Homo sapiens: one gene and its partners. The protein of the gene in region 3 purifies or fractionates together with the protein of the main gene of each other region. This does not show direct contact. Each region holds a gene or a part of one and is shown on either strand. Other genes may lie near its edges.

Evidence for each region. Proteins that work in one complex are often made in the same cells at the same time.
Region 1: the proteins of CFC1 (region 3) and RDH11 purify together in Homo sapiens (affinity purification with mass spectrometry; one large-scale study listed by BioGRID and IntAct). This does not show direct contact.
Region 2: the proteins of CFC1 (region 3) and FRAS1 purify together in Homo sapiens (affinity purification with mass spectrometry; one large-scale study listed by BioGRID and IntAct). This does not show direct contact.
Region 4: the proteins of CFC1 (region 3) and EDEM2 purify together in Homo sapiens (affinity purification with mass spectrometry; one large-scale study listed by BioGRID and IntAct). This does not show direct contact.

The regions. Positions count from the first base shown.
Region 1 is NC_000014.9:67,685,251-67,690,102, forward strand, and holds part of RDH11 (retinol dehydrogenase 11), read right to left. Parts: intron 1-4,852. UniProt on the Homo sapiens protein: Retinol dehydrogenase with a clear preference for NADP. Displays high activity towards 9-cis, 11-cis and all-trans-retinol, and to a lesser extent on 13-cis-retinol.
Region 2 is NC_000004.12:78,475,985-78,480,836, reverse strand, and holds part of FRAS1 (extracellular matrix organizing protein FRAS1 isoform 1 precursor), read right to left. Parts: intron 3,023-4,852; coding exon 2,776-3,022; intron 1,464-2,775; coding exon 1,119-1,463; intron 1-1,118. UniProt on the Homo sapiens protein: Involved in extracellular matrix organization. Required for the regulation of epidermal-basement membrane adhesion responsible for proper organogenesis during embryonic development. Involved in brain organization and function.
Region 3 is NC_000002.12:130,596,308-130,601,890, forward strand, and holds the start of CFC1 (cryptic protein isoform 1 precursor), read right to left. Parts: upstream 3,269-5,583; 5' UTR 2,981-3,268; coding exon 2,958-2,980; intron 2,653-2,957; coding exon 2,603-2,652; intron 2,509-2,602; coding exon 2,335-2,508; intron 2,091-2,334; coding exon of another isoform or gene 1,909-2,090; exon of another isoform or gene 1,691-1,908; intron 1,676-1,690; coding exon 1,561-1,675; intron 1,297-1,560; coding exon 1,187-1,296; intron 1-1,186. UniProt on the Homo sapiens protein: NODAL coreceptor involved in the correct establishment of the left-right axis. May play a role in mesoderm and/or neural patterning during gastrulation.
Region 4 is NC_000020.11:35,136,823-35,141,674, reverse strand, and holds part of EDEM2 (ER degradation-enhancing alpha-mannosidase-like protein 2 isoform 1 precursor), read left to right. Parts: intron 1-3,669; coding exon 3,670-3,795; intron 3,796-4,852. Other genes in the region: MMP24-AS1-EDEM2 (ER degradation-enhancing alpha-mannosidase-like protein 2), read left to right, coding at 3,670-3,795. UniProt on the Homo sapiens protein: Involved in the endoplasmic reticulum-associated degradation (ERAD) pathway that targets misfolded glycoproteins for degradation in an N-glycan-dependent manner.

The DNA of each region.
Region 1 (4,852 bases), on a different chromosome or scaffold from region 3:
GCAGAATAGCCCAAAACAGAAAAGGATGTAAATAAGCATGTGACCTTCACATATGGACTCTTTTGCCCATGGTGACATCAGAAGTACTGCTCACAGTAATTTATACTTCCATCTCACAGATCTAAGAAGGCTCTAGAGTAGACAGTGCTAAGGACCTCTGTGTATTTCTGACTGGAAACTCAAGTCAGGAATCAGCAGAGCCAAGACTCATCCTCTCAGCAGCACTTAACATCGTTGACCACCCCCTTCTTTTTTAGAGATGGGGTCTCCCTATGTTGACCAGGCTGGTCTTGAACTCCTGGCATCAAACAATCTTCCCACCTTGGCCTCCCAAAGTATTAGGATTACAGGCATGAGCCACCACACCCACCCCATCCCCTTCATTTTTTTGAGACAGGCTTGCTGTGTTGCCCAGGCTGGAGTGCAGTGGCATGATCTTCCTTCTGCCACTGCCTTCCAGGTTCAAGCGATTCTCCTGCCTCAGCCTCCCAAGTAGCTGGGACTACAGGGGTGCGCCACCACACCAGGCTAATTTTTGTATTTTTAGTGGAGACGGGATTTCATCATGTTGGCCAGACTGGTCTTGAACTCCTGACTTCAAGTGATCTGCCCACCTCGGCCTCCCAAAGTGCTGGGATTACAGGCGCCCATCCCCTTCTTAAAGTCTTCTTTTTCACTGGCTTCCATAAGCCTATGCCACTTCTGGTTTTCCTAACCTTTCTGGCTGCTCTGTCTCAGTTTTCTGGACCAGTTCATCATCTTCTACACAAACATTAAATGTTGGAGTTCTCGTGGCTCACCAGACTCCCTCTCCATAATTCTATGGTGCTCACATTTTGTCCACAGTCCAAACTGCTCCTCTGAACTGCAGACACACTGGGAGTCAACACAATGTGGTGGTTATGGGCATGGATTTTGTAGACAGACTGCCCAGTTTCAAATCCTGGCTCCACTCATTAGCTGTGTAACCTTGGGCAAGTTCCCTTTTGTGACTCATTTCTTCATCTCTAAAATGGGAATAATCATAATACTTACAACCTCACAGGGTAGTTATGAGGATTAAATGAGTTCATATATGTTAAAGGTCTTAAAAGAGTGCCTGATGCAGCTGGGCGTGGTGGCTCACACCTATAAGCCTAGCATTTTGGGAGGCCAAGGCAGGTGGACTGCCTGAGCTCAGGAGTTATAGACCAGCCTGGGCAACACAGTGAAACCCCGTCTCTACTAAAATAGAAAAAATTGGCCGGGCATGGTGGCGTGCACCTGTAATCCCAGCTACTTGGGAGGCTGAGGCAGGAGAATGACTTGAACCAGGGAGACAGAGGTTGTAGTGAGCCGATATCGTGCCACTGCACTCCAGCCTGGGCGACAGAGTGAGACACCGGTGCAAAAAAAAAAAAAAAAAAAAAGTGCCTGATGCATGGTAAGTGCTAAATGATACTTTTGCACATGCTATTTCAGGCCCCCAATCCTTTATGGAAAACGCTGGGGCCAGACATACTTCAATTTTTTTCTCTGATTGTAGAAAGGTAATATGAAATGTATACATACACTGCCTATTAATCTAATCTCCCTAGTACAGGAAATGTTTTGCTGCCAAATGAGTTTTGGTGTAAAGCTTTGAAGAAACAGAATTTTTCTGGTCTTTGTGGACTGACAGCTGCAGACACAGCTGTATTATTCCCAACTGCCTACTCGACATCTCCCTAGATGACCCATAGTAATGCAGACTCAGAGGTCCCAAATTGATTTCTACTTTTAAAGCCAAACCTGGTTCTTGCAGTGTTCCCGACATGCCCAATCAGGCAAAAGGGTTCTGATGAATGCCCACCTAAAGCATGCATCTCCAGTCAACAAGCTTTCCCAAACCAAATCTCTCTCAGAAGTTTCTACTACCCTCCAATTCCACCACCTAGTCCAAACTACCCTCATTTCTCACCTCTGCTGATGAAATCAACTGCTGCAACCCCTCTTGCCCCCATTTTGAAAAGGCTTTAATTTTAACCGTTTCCCATTGCTCTTAGAATAAACACTAAAATCCTTACTGTGGCCTCTAAGGGTTTGGCATCTACCTACCTCACCAGTCTCAGCTCAGATCTTTATTACTCTTGCTTTCTACAACCTACCAATGGTAACCTTCGCTGTTTCTCAAACTGAGCCCGGACCTTTGTACATTCTCCTCCTTCTGCCTGGAATGTTTCTCAGCCTCCATATTCCTTTTTTTTTTTTTTTTTTTTGAGATGGAGTTTCACTCTTGTTTGCCCAGGCTGGGGTGCAATGGTATGATCTCAGCTCACCACAACCTCTGCCTCCCAGGTTCAAGCAATTCTCCTGCCTCAGCCTCCTGAGCAGCTGGGACTACAGGCACACGCCAACATGCCCGGCTAATTTTGTATTTTTAGTAGAGATGGGGTTTCTCCATGTTGGTCAGGCTGGTCTTGAACTCCTGACCTCAGGTGATCTACCCACCTCAGCCTCCCAAATTGCTGGGATTACAAGCATGAGCCACCACGTCCGGCCCTTTTTTTTTTTCATTTTTTCAGACAGAGTTTTACTCGTGACGCCCAGGCTGGAGTGCAATGGCATGATCTTGGCTCACTGCAAACTCTGTCCCAGGTTCAGGCGATTCTCCTGCCTCAGCCTCTCCAGTAGCTAGGATTACAGGCGCCCGCCACCACACCTGGCTAATTTTTGTATTTTTAGTAGAGACAGGGCTTTCACCAAGTTGGCCAGGATGTTCTCGAACTCCTGACCTCAGGTGATCCACCAGCCTCGGCCTCCCAAAGTGCTGGGATTACAGGTGTGAGCCACCGCGCCCGGCCTCAGCCTCCACATTCTATCAGTACCTCTAATCCATTTAATTTCTAATCATCCTTCGGGGCTCAGCATGCAACTCACTTCTTCAGGAAAGTCTTCCCTGAACCCTCAGACTGAATAAGGTCCCCCCAAGACTCCCACTAAAATCCATTGTAAGTCCTGGTACTTCTCCTTTATAACATTTATCACAATTATAATTAAACAGCCACAACAAAAAGGAAACAATCCAGATGTTGTTAAGGAAATACATAAATACACTAAGGCACATCTATACTACGAAATACAACACAGCCAATACAATTAAGGGGTAAATCCATATGTACTAAATGGAAAGATCTCCAAGATACTGTGTTGGAGTTTCAGTTCCTTGTGCATGATACATACATATGTAAATGCATAGGAAAATTATTGGAAAGGGGCACACAAGCTGTTGATAATGGTCATATGAAGGGAGAAGAGCAGGGGGAAGAGGGGAATAAATGAAGGTGGTTTTTCACCTTAATTCTACATACTTCCATATGCTTTGAACTCTTTTTTTTTTTTTTTTGGTAGAGGAGATGAGGTCTCACTATTTTGCCCAGGCTGATCTTGAACTGGCCTCAAGTGATCCTCCGGTTTTGGCCTCCTAAAGTGCCTGGGATTAAAGGTGTGAGCCACTGTGCCTGACCTTATTTGAGCTTTTTACAATGAGAATTATTCATGCATTACTAGACTGATTTTACATTTAATAGTTTGTATAAAGACTTGCTAATTGTCTTTCTCCCCCGTTAGATGTAAACCAAACCAAAGAAGAGACTATACCTATCTTGTTCACCAATTCATCCCCTGTCCCCTAACCCAGTGCACGGAACAACATGGGCACTGAATACGTGTCTGCTGAATGGCTGAATGAATGAATCTTCTGTCAAACCAGGGTTCTTTTACTGCACCATAATGATTTTCCACTGAATCCTCACAACTATCAGAGTCACCTCATTCATGTATTAGTGAATTCTCACCACTGGACCCATCTTTCCACCTCCAGGCCACCCTAGCTCCCTGATCAACTCTTTGGATAGTTTTCACCATCCAGTTACCCTTATCTATCCTAAACTGATAAAAGATGTCATGCCCTGGGCACAGACTGGGCATAAGGACTGAGCTAACCACCAGTTTCCTTCCCATCTCACAGATGTTCATTTGGTAGGATGATCCTATTCCAACTATAGGGCACCTGTGCCTGATTCCTTGAGCCTGCATTCTGCCTGCCTCAATTCCTAGCACAGTTCACCCTCGATTTCCCTTCTCTTTATTAGAAATCCAGAGTAGACAGTGCTAAGGACCTCTGTGTATTTGTGACTGGAAATTCCCCTTCTCAAGCATATATTTCCCTCTTATTTGATGCTTTGCAAGGGAGACCCTGCCCCTCCATATTCCCAGTACCTGTTTTAGTCTACTGCCTTTATCTAGTGCCAGTTCAGGTCCTTCCCTCATACTCAGTCTCACTGTGAGTAAAAAATCTTGACTTGCTTATGAAGCCTGAATTAATTATGACAATAAACTGTGAAGTAGTCCCATTTACATATGAAGAAGGAAGTCCTAAAAGTTAAGTAATGGCCAGGTGCGGTGGCTCACACCTAAAATCCCAGCACTCTGGGAGGCCAAGGTGGGTGGATCACCTGAGGTCACGAGTTCAAGACCACCCTGACCAACATGGTGAAATCCTGTCTCTACTAAAAATACAAAAATTAGCCAGGCCTGGTGGCACGCACCTGTAGTCCCAGCTACTCAGGAGGCTGAGGCAGGAGAATCACTTGAACCTGGGAAGTGGAGGTCGGCAGTGAGCCGAGATTGCACCATTGCACTCCAGCATGGGTGACAGAGCAAGATCCCGTCTCAAAAAAAAAAAAAGTTAAGTAACTTGCTATAGATCACACAGCTAGTAAGTAGTAAAGCCAGGCCTTCAGACTCAAAGTCAGAGTCTCACTGTCCCAGCCAGCCACCTCCAATATTCAGTTGTAGACTACTTACTAAAACTGTACCCAATTATAGCCAC
Region 2 (4,852 bases), on a different chromosome or scaffold from region 3:
CCCTTCATAGATGTGAAAGGCCTTGATCTGGCCCAGATCAGGAGACACTCAGCACAGCTGTTGCCCCTCTGCCAGCAGTATATCTGCCTGCAGCATACATAAGACTTCAAGACCTTTGTGGAGCCACAAGTGGGAAAGGAGCCTGAGTCTCTGAAATACCATGTGAAAGTGACCTGCCCACTGATCGCTTTGGGCTCTTACATGAATGAGAAAGTTTCACTGTATGAAGACACTGAAACTTTGGAGAGTGTTCAGGAGCTAGCAGTACACTAAATACTTCACTTCCATCCTCAATATATCACATTCTCCCCTTTCACAAGCCCAGATGCTCAGTGCCAGGCCCTCCCTCTGGACCACAGAGGTCAGCCCATGAAGCTCTAGGCTCTATGCCACAGCCCTGCCTGCCATCAAGAACCAGAGTAAAACCTTCTACACTCTATCTCCATGACCTCAATGATTTTAACCTTTAGCTCCCACAAATAAGTGAGAACATGTGAAGTTTGTCTTTCTGTGCCTGGCTTATTTCACTTAGCATAAGGACCTCCACTTCCATCCATGTTGTAGAAGGATGGTTACCAGAGGATGGGAAGAGTAGTGGGGGTGGGAAATGGTGGTGGAGGGGGGAAGTGGGCATGGTTAATGGGTACACAAAATACTTAGAAAGAAGACCTAGTATTCCCTAGCACAACAGGGTGACTATAGTCAAAATAATTTAATTGCACATTTTAAAATAACTAAAAGAGTATAATTGGATTGTACATAACACAAAGGATAAATGCTTGAGGTGAGGTGATGAACACCCCATTTATCCTGATGTGATTATTATATATTACATGCCTGTATCAAAATATATCATATAATCCATAAATATATACACTTACTATGTACCCACAAAAATTTACTAAAACAAATCAGAGTAAGAAAAGTGGATGGAACTCTCTATAATAAATTCCATGCTTGGTCTTGGCCAAGCATTATATAGTGCCTTAGACCAACAGTGGTATCCCTGAGGAATGGCATTCTCAATGTCTCCCGGATATTCTGAAACCTAAGGAGAAAACTGCTCAAGAAAGGAATCAGGAGACAGGTGAAGGAAACTCAGAGACACTCTCCATTACCTGCGTCCTCACTGACAGTGAAAGCCGTGTTGCCCAGGGACACAGTCGAGGCATCGTTGGGACCACTAATGAGCACCTTGGCTGTCGCCACCCTTCCAATGCGGGCATTGTCAGAGGCATCTGCCAAGGCAATCTCAAACTCTTCTTCCTCTTCATACTCGCTGTCATCAATAAGCATGACATCACAGGTGGACATGGTCACACCAGGCCCGAATATCACACGACTCGCGGCAGACATCCCTCTAGATTTAAAATCAGAGCCTGATTCTAGAGCATAGAGGCTACTTCCCATAGCTGACTTAGGGACTGTGTAGCAAATTGCAGATACAATGCTGCTTGCATCTCCTGAAATACAAATGGCAAAAAACCAAAGCATTTGAATGAGTGCTTCTCAGATTTTAAAACCTCTGGTAAGTTAATGAGCTTGGTCCCTCCCAAACAGTCCATCACTATTTCTGTTCAAACTCTGACATAAAACCTTCCTGAATTGCAGTTTCTTTGAGCCTGTGGTATAAACCACTTGAGGATTTAATATACCCCAGATACTTCATCAAACAACTCAAAATGGATTTCCTATTCTGTGAATTTTGTGCTCTGTTAATTTGCAAGACTCATTGCCCACCATCTAAGACCACAGCAGGTGGAAAGATATGACACATATTTGGTACTTTAAGTAGGAAAGTAATTGTGTCCTGAAGGTAGTGCTATAAGCACAGTTCACTGCCTTTCTGAATAAACTTCTATACTTTAATTCCCAGAAAGAAACAGGCTTATTTAAAAAGAGAAAGACAAAACAAAATAAAATCTGCCACTGTATACAAATGACTTTACTTATTAGGGCTGCCACTTCCCTTGGTGACAGCCTGTTCTGGGCCTGGCTTGGTGGCCCAGAGCAATCAATGAGGCTTGCTTGTTTTCCAAGTGGCATTACCAAGGGTTTTTGCTATCTACAGTATTTGTTACACTAATACCCAGTCAGCAGATTCAAGAAAGAAACCCAAAATCATCATTTACAGTCTTGTTGTGCCTTTGAATGGGGGTTCAATTTCCATGTGTTTTAAAGTCTCAATCTTGCACAATCAAAATTCCATATGATGTTTATTTTTATTTCCAACTCCTCAAGAATTGCCCTTTTATCAACATGCACAATTACTATGTATCAGTCAAAAATAAAACAAAAAAAGAATTGCCCTTTATTTCTTACACATAGTTTATTTCTCATCTGAGCTCTACATATGACTGTCACATAGGGAAATTTTCAGCATATTTCTGTCTTCCAAGAATAAGATGGAAAGCCAGTCCTTATGAACTGTAACTTCCCTCCTTGACCAAGGTTACTAAATATTTTATGGATTGGGTGATTGATTAAGAATACTGATTCATGAATAATTTAGAAGGCTAAATATAACCAGTCTTCTAGTCCAATTTAAGAGTAAATGGGAGCTCTAACAACTTGAACTAAGAAAAGAGGCTTTCTGATGGTAGTCACTATGGATAGAATCATCATCAGGGTTGTTGTGGGAACCAAATGAGTTAATAAGTGGAAAGTACACATGTGAGTTAAGATAATGCATGAGATGAGTGCTTAGCACATAATAGGAACTCAATAAATGTTAGCAATTATTATAGCTCTTTGTCACCTGTGGAACCAACAGACCTTTTCTTTCAATAGGTGCAAACAGAAAACCAGCGCTCTCGTTAACCCAGTAGATCTTCTTGTCAAACTCTAATGTGGGTTCATCCTCGGTATCGTTGATAATGACCTTCGCCTGGGTGAATTCCCCTAACAGGGCATAAGCTGGCATGCTGAGCTCCACAGTGAAACTCTCAACATTTTCAAACACGTCATCATCGTTGATGACAATGGTGCAGGACTTGGTGTCCTCTCGCTCATCAAACTGGACCTGTCACAAAGGAACCAACAAGAAGTTAAGCTGTGCCTCAGCTTCCCCTGCTCTGCTTCCCCAGGGCATCATAGGAAAAGAGCATCCAAGTCCAGTGGGCAGAGCACTGACTGAAATAGCTGGTTCTCCCAGCCCTGGTTCCCTGCTGCATCACCTGGAACACCCAGCCACCTCTTCCCATTCTTAACCTGTACAGGAGGGCTGCTTTATTGTATAAGGACATGAAGGAGCAAAATCTCTCCTACCATTGGTGACTGGAGAAAAACATGTAGTAACTCTTTATAGCCTGTCTTATTATCTCACTTGGGGCAGCAACAGTCATCATTTGATGACTCAGTTCCCTTTCTGGAAGAACTCTGGCCTTGGAGTATGAAGTTCTGTTCTCAGATCTGGTTCTGTTACTTCCAAGCTGTATTAGGTTATGAAGCTTTACAAACATCAGATTCCTCATCAACTAAAGAAAAGTCATAATATTCCTACCTCATACGCTTCTTGGGAGGACTAAAGGAGGTCTTGTATATGAAGGTGTTAAGTGTATTTTAAAGTACCAAACAAACATAAGATATTATCATTAGTATCACCATATTACTTACACAATTAAAATTGACATAGAATTCCAGTGTACTGAATAATGGAATTTAAATTCATAGAAAATTACATTATAAACAAGGTAGACTAATTTTAACTTGATATTTTGACTACACCCTTTGCCATTAAAATGTGAATCAATTTAGCCCAGTACAAAACAGAGAAATTATTTTATATGTACACAATTGTGAACTTATAGGGACTTATTCTGGTTTTACTTTGTTTTTTTTTTTTTTTAAAAAGAAAGAAATTAAAAATCTTCAAGTGAAACCACGACTATGGACTTGCCCAAAACTGAAACTGCAGGAAATGAGCCTGGACTATACTTTGTGTAAACGGAGATAACTGAAATATGTACAAAAAACAGACATAAATGTCTGGGGACACACAAATCTGCAAAAATTTTACTCAAACAGAAAATTATTAGTATATATCTAATCAACTAATAACACTTTTATTAAGCTTCATATTTTAAAACACTCCCAGTGAAATGAAACACTCAACAGATCTTTATGTAAGATCTAGAATACACTGACAGTCTTCTGTCTTTCCCTGAAAAACACAAGAATATCCTCCGTCTTATCATTTAGCTGAAAGACATTAGCTTATCTGTTCTTTCCTAATTCCTCACTTACATTTGACATTAGAGACATTAGCTTAGTCCAGCTGAAATGCCTCAATTAAAGAACAGAGCCCACTTCTCTTTACAGAGATCTGTGTTGCCATAATAACAATAAAGTTGCTTTGAAAAAAAAATTAAGTGTCAGACATTGTGCCCTCCATAAAAGATGACAAATACATGGGGCCCTGTATTTGTTGACTATTTAAGTTGACTATTTAAGTCCTCCTTTCTCTTCCACTTTCACTCTCTCCTTTTTCTTTCTCATTGCCACCTTTAATTACCACTGGTATGTAGATGACTTGCAAATTTCTCTCTGGACACCAGACTCCTCTCTGCACTGCCTGCCCATCTATACAGTGGTCAACCTGCTCTTTCTAAGACAATTTATACCTAACATAGCCAAAGCAAAGTCACGAGCACCAAACCTTGCCCAACCGGCTCCTCTTATATGTCCCTTCCTAGCAAGAGGCATCATCATCCATCTTTCAAATGGCCCCACTGTCTAATCAATCCACTGCCAAATCCTATCAATTCTCACTCATCTGTCAAATCCATCCGCTTCTCTCAAACTTCACTTCATAATCGAAGCCCAAGCTCCCATCATCTCAGCCAGCCTACCC
Region 3 (5,583 bases):
GCTGGGGCGGCCTAATGGCAGGTGGGAACTGACTTCATCTGTGAGGACCACACAAGCACCCCCTGTGATTCTGATGCCTGTCCATGAAATCTGTGTCCTCCTGTCTCTAGGGCATAGAGGAGCAGCTGGTGACTTCAGAGGCAGAGGCCCAGCAAAAGGAGCACACATAGAAGAGGGGGTGCTTTGGGAAAATGTGGTCTGCACGGCAGGCGGGGAGTGCTCTTCCCTGCTGGCACCATGCAGAGCTAGCTGAGGAGAAGGGAGCAGGGTGGGAAGTGGGGTTGGGGGCTGTGCCTCTATTAAGAGTGTCCCTTGACTGCTGGTCCTACCAGGGAGAGAAGAGAGGACAGGAAGGTGAAGGAGAGCTAAGCATGCATTGTGTACTCCTCCATTGTGGGCCTCCAAGAGCAAGAGGGAGGCTGGGGGAGCCGGGTTGAAGATCTTTGGGCCACTGGTGCTGCCCTCCATGCAGCCCTAGCAGGACGGCCTGAGAGCGACAGGTGGGAAGTGGGGTTGCGGGGCTGTGCTCTTTGACAGATGGAGGTGCCCAGGGCTGACTGAAGTGGAGGGAGGGGGCAGGAGAGTGGATCAGGGGCCTTGGCTTCATCAGGTGTGCCTCTGGACACTGCACCACCAGCCCACCCGGGCCTGGGAGAGGGCAGAGCTCGGGCTGGGGCCAAGAGGCTGGGCCTTCACTAGCTGTGCCCTCCATTGCTAGCCCCAGCCAGTGATCACCAAAGAGGAGAGGAGAGAAGGCACAGGATTCCAGAGGGAAATGCGGCTCCTGCCTGTGTCCCTGCTGGTCCCACAGCTGAGCAGATGGTGCTGGCCTAGTGCAGGGAAACCACCTGAGATTTACGCAGCTAACTTGTCTCCCAGCTTCCTCTCCGATTACCAGCTGGTCATCTCCTGAAATTCTGCTCACTGAAACGGACATGTGAGGACATGGTTTGGAAATCATTTTTAAACTCAGCAATCTGGATATGAGAACTTCAAAACAAAATTTAATTCACTATATGATTCCCAATGAATGCGACTTTCTTCAATGATGAATCGATCTACTTTGCTAAATGCTATGTGGCCTGGCACTGGAAGATGCACTGTGGATCGGTATGGAGGGTGAGCCGCAATGAAGGCGCAACCGCGTGCGGGGGTGAGCTGGGGACCGAATCACAGGGCCTCTTACCACAGCGGTCAGGCGTCTGGAGGGGGAGGCAGTGCAGGGCCCCGAAGATGCACCTGCAGAGGTGGCAGGCGCGGAGGGTCCAGGCTCCGTGCTCCAGGGCGCCGCATTCACTGAGAAGACGGGGACCTGCATCAATGCGGTGGCCCGCGCGCCCCTCGCCCGGCGCCCACTCCTGCGCCGCTCCCCCACCCGCGCATCCCTCCCCCGGCGCCAACTCCCGCGCCCCCCAACCCGCGCGCCCATCGCCCGGCGCCCACTCCCGCGCCCCCGCACCCGCGCGCCCCTCTCCTGACGCCTACTCCCGCGCCCCCAGACCCGCAGGTCCCTCACCCGGCGCCCACCCCCGTCCCCACCCCGCGCACCCCTGTGCCCACCTGCGCCTCTGGTCATGCTCGCAGTAGCGGCCGGTGAAGTGGGCCGGGCACACGCAGAAGCTGCCCAGCACGCAGGTACCGCCGTTCCTGCAGCAGCGCGGCCGCGCGGACGCACCTGCGGGGTCACCCGGGCGTCAGCCCCGCGCCCCCCGCGGCCCGTGGCCCTCCCCGCAGGGACGGGGCCGAACGTGGCCGCCCAGGGGAGGCAGTAAAATCAGCCTCCAGCCAAGTGTGTTTGCTCAGGTAAACCCTGCTTGTTAGGGATGTGAAACAAACTATCAGGGGTGCGGCCTGCAAGCCGGGCTTGCTCTCTCCCTTCCTTTCACATGTTAACCTCTGGCTGTGGCTTCACCTGACAGTGATTAAGCACAGGCCTCCTGGGCGGGACCACCCACGGGTGTGATGACGCCAAACCCACCGGCGAGGGGCCTCCTGGGGACGCGGTGTCTGGGAGAAGCCAAGCAAGAGTCCGCTGTTATCTTGGCTTGGGATATTTATTTTCAACACATTTAAATCACAGTTCTCTAGATCTGCAGCAAAATAACCATTGAAGAGCAAATACAACGTTTTACCAATGAAAGAGTAAAGCTTTTTAACACCTCACTAGGAACTGTCTCTAGCTTTATAGCTTTGTAAGTGCATCATCATTTGAAGATAACAAAATGCTCTCCTTGGATTTTATCCTGAATTTATCCTACATATTCTCAGGTCCTAAACTCTGAGTCCGCAGACTGAGATGACGCCCCGGATTTTGTGGGCAGCGCTGCAACTTACCCTCTCCGAAAGCCCGGGAGTAGGGGAGCGGCTCCTCCGGCCCCCAGCCCTCGGCGCTCCCAGTCACCTCTCCGAAATGACTGGAGGTCCAGTTGAGCGGTGACTGTCGGTGCTTCTGAGTGGCAACCTTGGTGACTTCCTCTCTACCGCCGTTATGTTTCTCTCTTTGATAGCCTTTAAAAAATATTGAAAATGTGAGACTGATAATGATTGAGAAACAAATATTTTATGCAATTAAAACTGAAATTATGAATAAAATGTTTCTTACTGTTTCCCAAATTGATGATCTGTAATGCCAAACTGACCGTAAACAGAAGCCTAGAATATTTAAAGAAAATCATTGAAGTTGAAAGTATCTTTAGAAGTATAAGCAGAAATTCACATACACATAAAAATACAATGCCATCATTATATATAAATATAAAATTATGTAAAATAATTATAATGAATAAGGCAATCATTTTGTAACTTGTAGGTTTTTGTTAATTTTGCTATGGCTTAGAAAGATTTTGAGACAGAAAGTGTACACCTCCTTTAATGAACAGTGGCTCATGCACTACGATTTATTCTGAGGCTCTTAAGACCCCTTCTTGGCTCTAAGATCTCATGACCTCTGTCCTTACCTGACATGGTGCCTCCAGGTCATTTTTGGTTTGAGAGTCTCCTTCTCTTAGTGCATTGAAGATCAGTTTCCAGGAAAGCTGAATCTGAAGAGTCTCTGCATTTGAAGGTGTCTTTACTCCAGGCCCCGGGGACACAGAATGGACGAGTACAGAAGATGTGGATGTTCCCTTCCCTTCCTCAGCCAGGAGAAACGGGATGGTATCTTGAGTTCTGCAGTCCCTGAGCTAGGGTCGGGGGCGCAGTGACAGGCAGGCCCCTCCGAGCCTGAAGAACAATTCCCTCTATGAGACCTGGCTGGGGGGTGGGGACTTGGGCTGACTCCCCCCAGCAGTGTTTACAGTGCTGACAGCAGCAGGAGTGACCAATCCCTGATGTAAAACATTGGTATCCAAGGTGACGAGCCATTTTCTCACTGGAAAAAAAAAAAAATCCCAACATGAACAAAAAGCTTTCACAGGAAGGTGGAGATTTTCTACTGCATACTACTTGTACTGGGAGATGGTGAGGGGCCCTGTGGGAGAGGGAGCTCCTGTGTGGGGCACAGGCAACAGCCTGGGGTCCCAGCCGCCCTGAGTGGGGAACACGAGGATAAGGGAAAGCACGTCACCCCTGCTTTAAGAGAGGCCCCCTTACTCTGCAGATGGAGCCTCTTCTCTGTGCCCAGCAAGTGGGGGAGGGGCACTGCCCCCATTTACTATAGGACCCTCTAGGGTAGGCACTATTATTATCCCCCACGTGAAAAGAGAGAAAGGGAGGCTTAGAGAGTTTAAGTCCTTTGGCAGTTAGATCTCTGAGAAACATGAATGGCACCGATATGATGAGGAGATACCCACAGGTATTTAAGGCGAGCCCTTAGGAGCACAGGCGCAACTGCGGCGCCCGCCCATCGCCAGAGGAGCCTGCTGAATCCAAACGGAACCCAAGGAAGGAGTGATTTGGGGTATTTTCTAGCACCTTCTAAATCTGCTTTTCTAACTACCAGAATAGGGACTGAGCCCCTTTTATCAGCACTAAAGAAGACACTTTGCAACCCAGTGTTGCAAATTGTTCTGTGATTTTAATATAAAAACTCATTTCTAAAAATAGTATTCTTCCTCCAAGGCTGAAATAGTCTTTAATGGTGATTTAATTTCTTACATCTTTACGTGTGAGGTTTATTAAAGAGGCTGTTAAATAAAGCAATAGGAAATTGGAGGACCGGGCTACCCTGGGGGGCCTCCCAGCAATGGGTCCTGTGGGCTGCAAGGACCAGGTCAAGGCCAGCAGACCCGAGTGGGCAGAGCACATGGAGGAAGGTGCCCCAGGACTTCATCAAGCATCTGTAAGTGCTGTAAGTCATGAGACAAACACCTTGTTAATTTTGTTTTTTAGAGGCAAAGTGTCACTCTGTCAGCCAGGCTGGAGTGCAGTGGGCGATCATAGCTCACCACATCCTCGAACTTCTGGGCTTAAGTGATCCTCCTACCCCAGCCTCTGAGTGGCTAGGACTACAGGCTCGCGCCCCTATGCCCAGCTAATTTTTTTTTTATTTTGTAGAGATAGGGATCTTGCTATGTTTCCCAGGCTGTCCTCTAACTTCTGGCCTTAAGCGATCCTCCTGCCTCTGCCTCCCAAAGTGCTGGGATTACAGGCACAAACCCACCGTGTCCGGTGAAAAACACACTTTATTTTTTTGAGACGGAGTCTAGCTCTGTGGCCCAGGCTGGAGTGCAGTGGTGCAATCTCGGCTCACTGCAACCTCCGCCTCCCGGATTCACACCATTCTCCTGCCTCAGCCTCCCGAGTAGCTGGGACTACAGGCGCCCACCACCATGCCTGGCTAATTTTTTTGTATTTTTAGTAGAGACGGGGTTTCACCGTGTTAGCCAGGATGGTCTTGATCTCCTGACCTCGTGATCCACCCGCCTCGGCCTCCCAAAGTGCTGGGATTACTGGCATGAGCCACTGCGCCCGGCCGAAAAATACACTTTTAAACTCAGTGGTTACTACTGGTTAATTGCATCATTTAATTATATGTAAAAGTAAGTACATTTTATGACTTTAAGTTAATAGAATCTTTTGCATGAGCTAAATTGTTTGTATACTAAAATGAAGATGTATATAAGCTAGATGATTGTATTTTTTGTATAAATAAGTTTTAAAACTGTTCATTTTACAGAGTGATATTGAAACCAAACCTCTCTGACAATAGTAAAGCTTTAAAAGCAGCCTCTAAAATCTAACTTTCCCCCACAGTTTATTTATTAAATTTTACCTTAGTGGACATTTCCAAACATACACAAAGGCTGGTAGAATGAGCCAATAAACCCAGGTTCAACAATTAAGTATCAGCCTTTGCCAATTTTATTTCATTTGTTTCCTCCCTAACTTTTTTCTTGAAGTTTTAAAAACTCCAATACATCATGACATTTCATATGTAGAGTAAGATTTTGAAAATCTGCACTTTATAAGTGGAAACTAGGAAAAAAAAACGTCTTGCCAGCAAGACAGAACTGAGAAGCAAGAAATAGCAGTGCGACGTGCTTAAGCTGTTTGCTTAAGCTCTGCAGTCGGCTCTGAGGAGAAGGGCTGATGGCCAGGCAATAAAGCTTCTGATGACCTATTTTCGCCAAACTGTCACTTGCT
Region 4 (4,852 bases), on a different chromosome or scaffold from region 3:
GCACAGCCCTTATTTGCATCGAACCTCTAGACCACTTAACAGCTGTCACCTCTGGATGGCAGAGTTCTATTTTTCCCCATTATTTTGTATGTTTTCTGCAATGAAACTTATATTCCAGACATATGATCCATAAAAGATTAAAAAAGAGAAGAGAGCAGAGGGACAACATGGTCTAAAATCCTGGTTTAGGAATCCGGCCTGAGTTTGAGGCTGTACTTGCTGCTATGTCTCCCAGCTTCTGAGCCCAGTTTGTCATCTGTAAATGAAGGTCATTCTTATACCTTTATTTCTGATAGGAATATAAGTGATACCAGCTTTCTTTTGGTTGACATTTTCCCATGTATCTTTTTCTATCCTTTCCATCTTTCTGTAGTTTTATGATTAGATACATCTTTTGCAAATAGTGTATTATATTTTGTTTATCCATTCTGACAATCTTTAACTGGCACATTTAATCCATTTACATTTACTGTAATTACTGATATATTTGCACTCATTTCTACAGTATTGTGCTCTCTGTGCCGTCTTCTTTTTTTTTTTTTTTTTTTTTTTTTTGAGGCGGAGTCTCACTCTGTCGCCCAGGCGGGAGTGTAGTGGTGCAATCTTGGCTTACTGCAACCTCTGCCTCCCGGGTTCAGGCGATTCTCCTGTCTCAGCCTCCTATGTAGCTGGGATTGCAGGTGCCTGCCACCGTGCCCTGCTAATTTTTGTATTTTTAGTAGAGATGGGGTTTCACCATGTTGGCCAGGCTAGTCTCGAACTCCTGACCTCAGGTGATCCGCCCCCCATCAGCCTCCCAAAGTGCTGGGATTATAGGTGTGAGCCACTGCACCTGGCCCTGTGCCATCTTCTTTATGTTCCTTTATTCTGTCCTTTTTCATGCCTTCTTTAGATTGTTTTCCCCCCATTCCATTTTCCTCTTACTAATATGGAAATTATGCACAATATCTAGCTTTTTACATAGTTTTCCAAGCAAATTTAACAAACATAACTTATCAAAGTCTAAATTTAATGAAAATCTTTGTTCTCCTCCTGAATAATGCAAAACCTGACTTAGAGAACATCCTGACCTATATGCTACAGTTATATATTTTAGTTATTTGTTTTAAACCTTCCATACATTATAATTTTTGTTCTATATTGTTGAAGTTTTGCATTTACACATAAATTTACCACTTTTTTTGTTGTTGTTGGTTTGAAATAGAGTCTCACTCTGCCACCCAGGCTGGAGTGCAGTGGCGCGATCTTGGCTCACCTCCACCTCCTGGGTTTAAACGATTCTCCTGCCTCAGCCTCCAGAGTAGCTGGGATTACAGTTGTGCACCACCACACCAGGCTAATTTTTGTATTTTTAGTAGAGATGGTGTTTCACCACATTGGCCAGGCTGGTCTCAAACTCATGATCTTGAGTGATCCACCTGCTTTGGCTTCCCAAAGTGCTGGAATTACAGGTTTAGCCACTGTGCCTGGCCTATTTACCACTTTTTTGACTATTTTTTCTTTTCGTGTCTCAGACCTTTTCTCTAAAGTATTTCCTTTAGAATTTCCTTTAATGCAGGTGTGTGCTTCATAAACATTCCCAGCTTTTGTTTATATGAAAATGTCTTTATTCAACTGCCTTTGGTTGGCCTTTGAGTGATATTTTTGCTGGGTGTATGGTTCTAGGTTGATGGTTACTTTCTCTTATTGTGTTAAAAACTTTTTCCATTATCTTCTGGTTTCATTATTGTTAAGAAGTAATCTGTCAATGTAATTATTATTTATTTGTAGAGAATCTTGTTTTGGTTTTCACTTTGGCTGTCTTCTCCTTTTAAAAACTTTTTGTTATGGAAAACTTCAAACATAAAAGTAGAGAAAATAGCATAATGAACCAGACGTGCCCATCACCCAGCATTAATAATTATTATTACATGGATTCTGGCTGCATTCGAGATCATTTTTCCCTTTGGTGTTCTGCAGTTTTACCATAAGGTACATACATGTAGATTTCTTTTCTTTCTTTCTTTTCTTTTTTTTTTTTTTTCTGAGATGGAGTCTCGCTCTGTCGCCCAGGCTGGAGTGCAGTGTCATGATCTCAGCTCACTGCAACCTCCGCCTCCTGGGTTCAAGCAATTCTCCTGCCTCAGCCTCCCGAGTAGCTGGGACTACAGGCGCACAACGCCATGCCCGGCTAATTTTTTGTATTTTTAATAGAGACAGGGTTTCACCGTGTTTACCAGGCTGGTCACGAACTCCTGAGCTCAGGCAGTCCACCTGCCTCAGCCTCCCAAAGTGCTGGGATTACAGGCATGAGCCACCGTGCCCAGACTTTTTTTTTTTTTTTTTGAGACGGAGTCTCACTCTGTCACCCAGGCTGAAGTGCAGTGGTGCAATCTTGGCTCACTGCAACCTCCACCTCCTGGGTTTAAGCCATTCTTCTGCCTCAGCTTCCCAAGTAGCTGGGACTGCAGGCGCTTGCCACCACGCCCAGCTAATATTTTGTATTTTTAGTAGAGACAGGGTTTCACCATTTTAGCCGGGATGGTCTCCATCTCCTGACCTCGTGATCTCCACCTCGGCTCCCAAAGTGCTGGGATTACAGATGTGAGCCACCATGCCTGGCCTGCATAGGGACCTTTTATCAGACTTCCACTTGGGGCAGGTCTGACCTTGGTCTCCTATTCCCCCTCTGCAGGGAGGAGGGGAATTTTGAAACTTAGGGTCACCAGTTATTTTCATTGAGAGGGCCACTCAGGATATCTATTTAGCTGTATTTCCAAGAACCTTTGTGTCTTTTTAAAAGTTCTAAGTAGGCCGGGTGCGGTGGCTCATGCCTGTAAATCCAGCACTTTGGGAGGCTGAGGCAGGTGGATCATGAGGTCAGGAGATCGAGACCATCCTGGCTAGCACAGTGAAACACCGTGTCTACAAAAAAAAAATCCAAAAAAATTAGCCGGGCATGGTGGTGAGCTCCTGTAGTCCCAGCTACTCGGGAGGCTGAGGCAGGAGAACGGCGTGAACCTGGGAGGCGGAGCTTGCAGTGAGCCGAAATCGCGCCACTGCACTCCAGCCTAGGTGACAGAGCGAGACTCCGTCTCAAAAAAAAAAAAAAAAAGTTCTACATATTGCATAATAAGTTGAAATAGATAAATTAGTAAAATAAAGGTAATAACCATCATTACCCCTTCCCCCCAGGTATGACAGGTGACTGGGAGACAGACAGAGTGACAAATGGAATGAGCATGGGCTTTGGAATCAAAGATACTCAGCCCTACCACCTACTAGATGGGTGACCTGGGGCAAGTCACTTTATCTCATGGAACCTCAGTATCTTCATACGAAGAGGGGACAGTAGTACTTAGTGCTTGGTACACAATAGGGACTTACAAAAAATAGCCACTGTTCCTGTGATGAACCAAGAGAAGAAAACCCCATAAACTTAACACCATAGAAATATGTGGGATTAAGGGACTCTTTTTTCGCTGGGTGGCTCTAGCTCCTTCCCAGTGAGCCACCCCAACAGAGTGAGGTTTTTGTTTGTTTGTTTTTACCCGTGAAATAGCTTCAGGAGGTCCTGAGAACATGCGCCCCACAATAGAGTGTTTATGTTTAACTCGCACAGGGGAAAGATCCTTGATCCCTTGGTCTTTCCCTTTGGACTGTGCCATTTGCTTTCTGTGCCATCTGTAGTGGTAGGAGGACTCCTGTCTGCTCATCTGCTCTCCAAGAAGGCTGGGGTGGAAGTAGAGGCTGGATGGCCCTGTTCCGGGCCTCTCCTGAGAATGGCTGAGGAGGCGGCCCGAAAACTCCTCCCAGGTAAGACCCACACAGAGATGGGGCAGAGACGAAGTCCAGTAGGTCCTGCTTCCCTTGCTGAAGATGAGAGTGGCAGTGCTGAATTAATTCCTGGTATTTCTCACCAGGTGTATTTGGTCTTTCTACCCACCAGGCACCCACCATGGAAATCAGGAGTGTCCTGGGCATTTTAAGGGCCTGCTGGGGCCCTGACCCGGATGGATGAGTTGACCTCATTATTGTTTGCAGGGGATGGTTGAAGGTGGCCAGCCTGGTGGGTGGAAGGCCATTACCCTTATTTTGAATGAGCCCATTTGTCCCCTTCCAGGTACTACAGTTATTCCACACACTGCTGGAGTAACAGGGGCCCAGGGAAGGGTGTTGGTGTGAGCATTAGCAGCCCTGGATTCTAGACTCAGCTCTGCCAGCCAACATCGTGACCAAGCCACTCTTTCTCTTCATAGTTTGTTGTTTGTTTGTTTGTGATGGAGTCTTGTTCTGTCGCCCAGGCTGGAGTGCAGTGGCACAATCTCAAGTCACTGTAACCACCGCCTCCTGGGTTCAAGCAATTCTTTTGCTTCAGCCTCTTGAGTAGCTGGGATTACAGGCGCCTGCCACCATGCCCAGCTAATTTTTGTATTTTTTAGTAGAGATGAAGTTTCGCCACGTTGATCAGGCTGGTCTCAAACTCTTGACCTCAAGTGATCTGGCTGCCTCGGCCTCCCAAAGTGCTGGGATTACAGGCATGAGCCACTGTGTCTGGCCTCTCTCCACAGTTTGGTTTCCCCATCTATCAAATGAGAATCATAATTTCTACTTCCCTACCACATCGGGTTTTGGAGAGGCTAAAATGAGGTCAGGAAGGAGAAACTGCTTAGAGAACGTCCAACACTTTTAAAACGAGAGGGATTTGTTTTGTGGCTAAGCTGTGTCCAGGGCTGCAGGTCAAGCCTCCATGTTTTTGTCTAGTGGGGCAGTAACACCAGGCTCAGTAGCATCAACTGTACACTGTGTTCCCTTCAGGGTGTGGTGGAGGCTCTGAGGACTGTTCACACCCAGACACGTCACACTGTGCTTT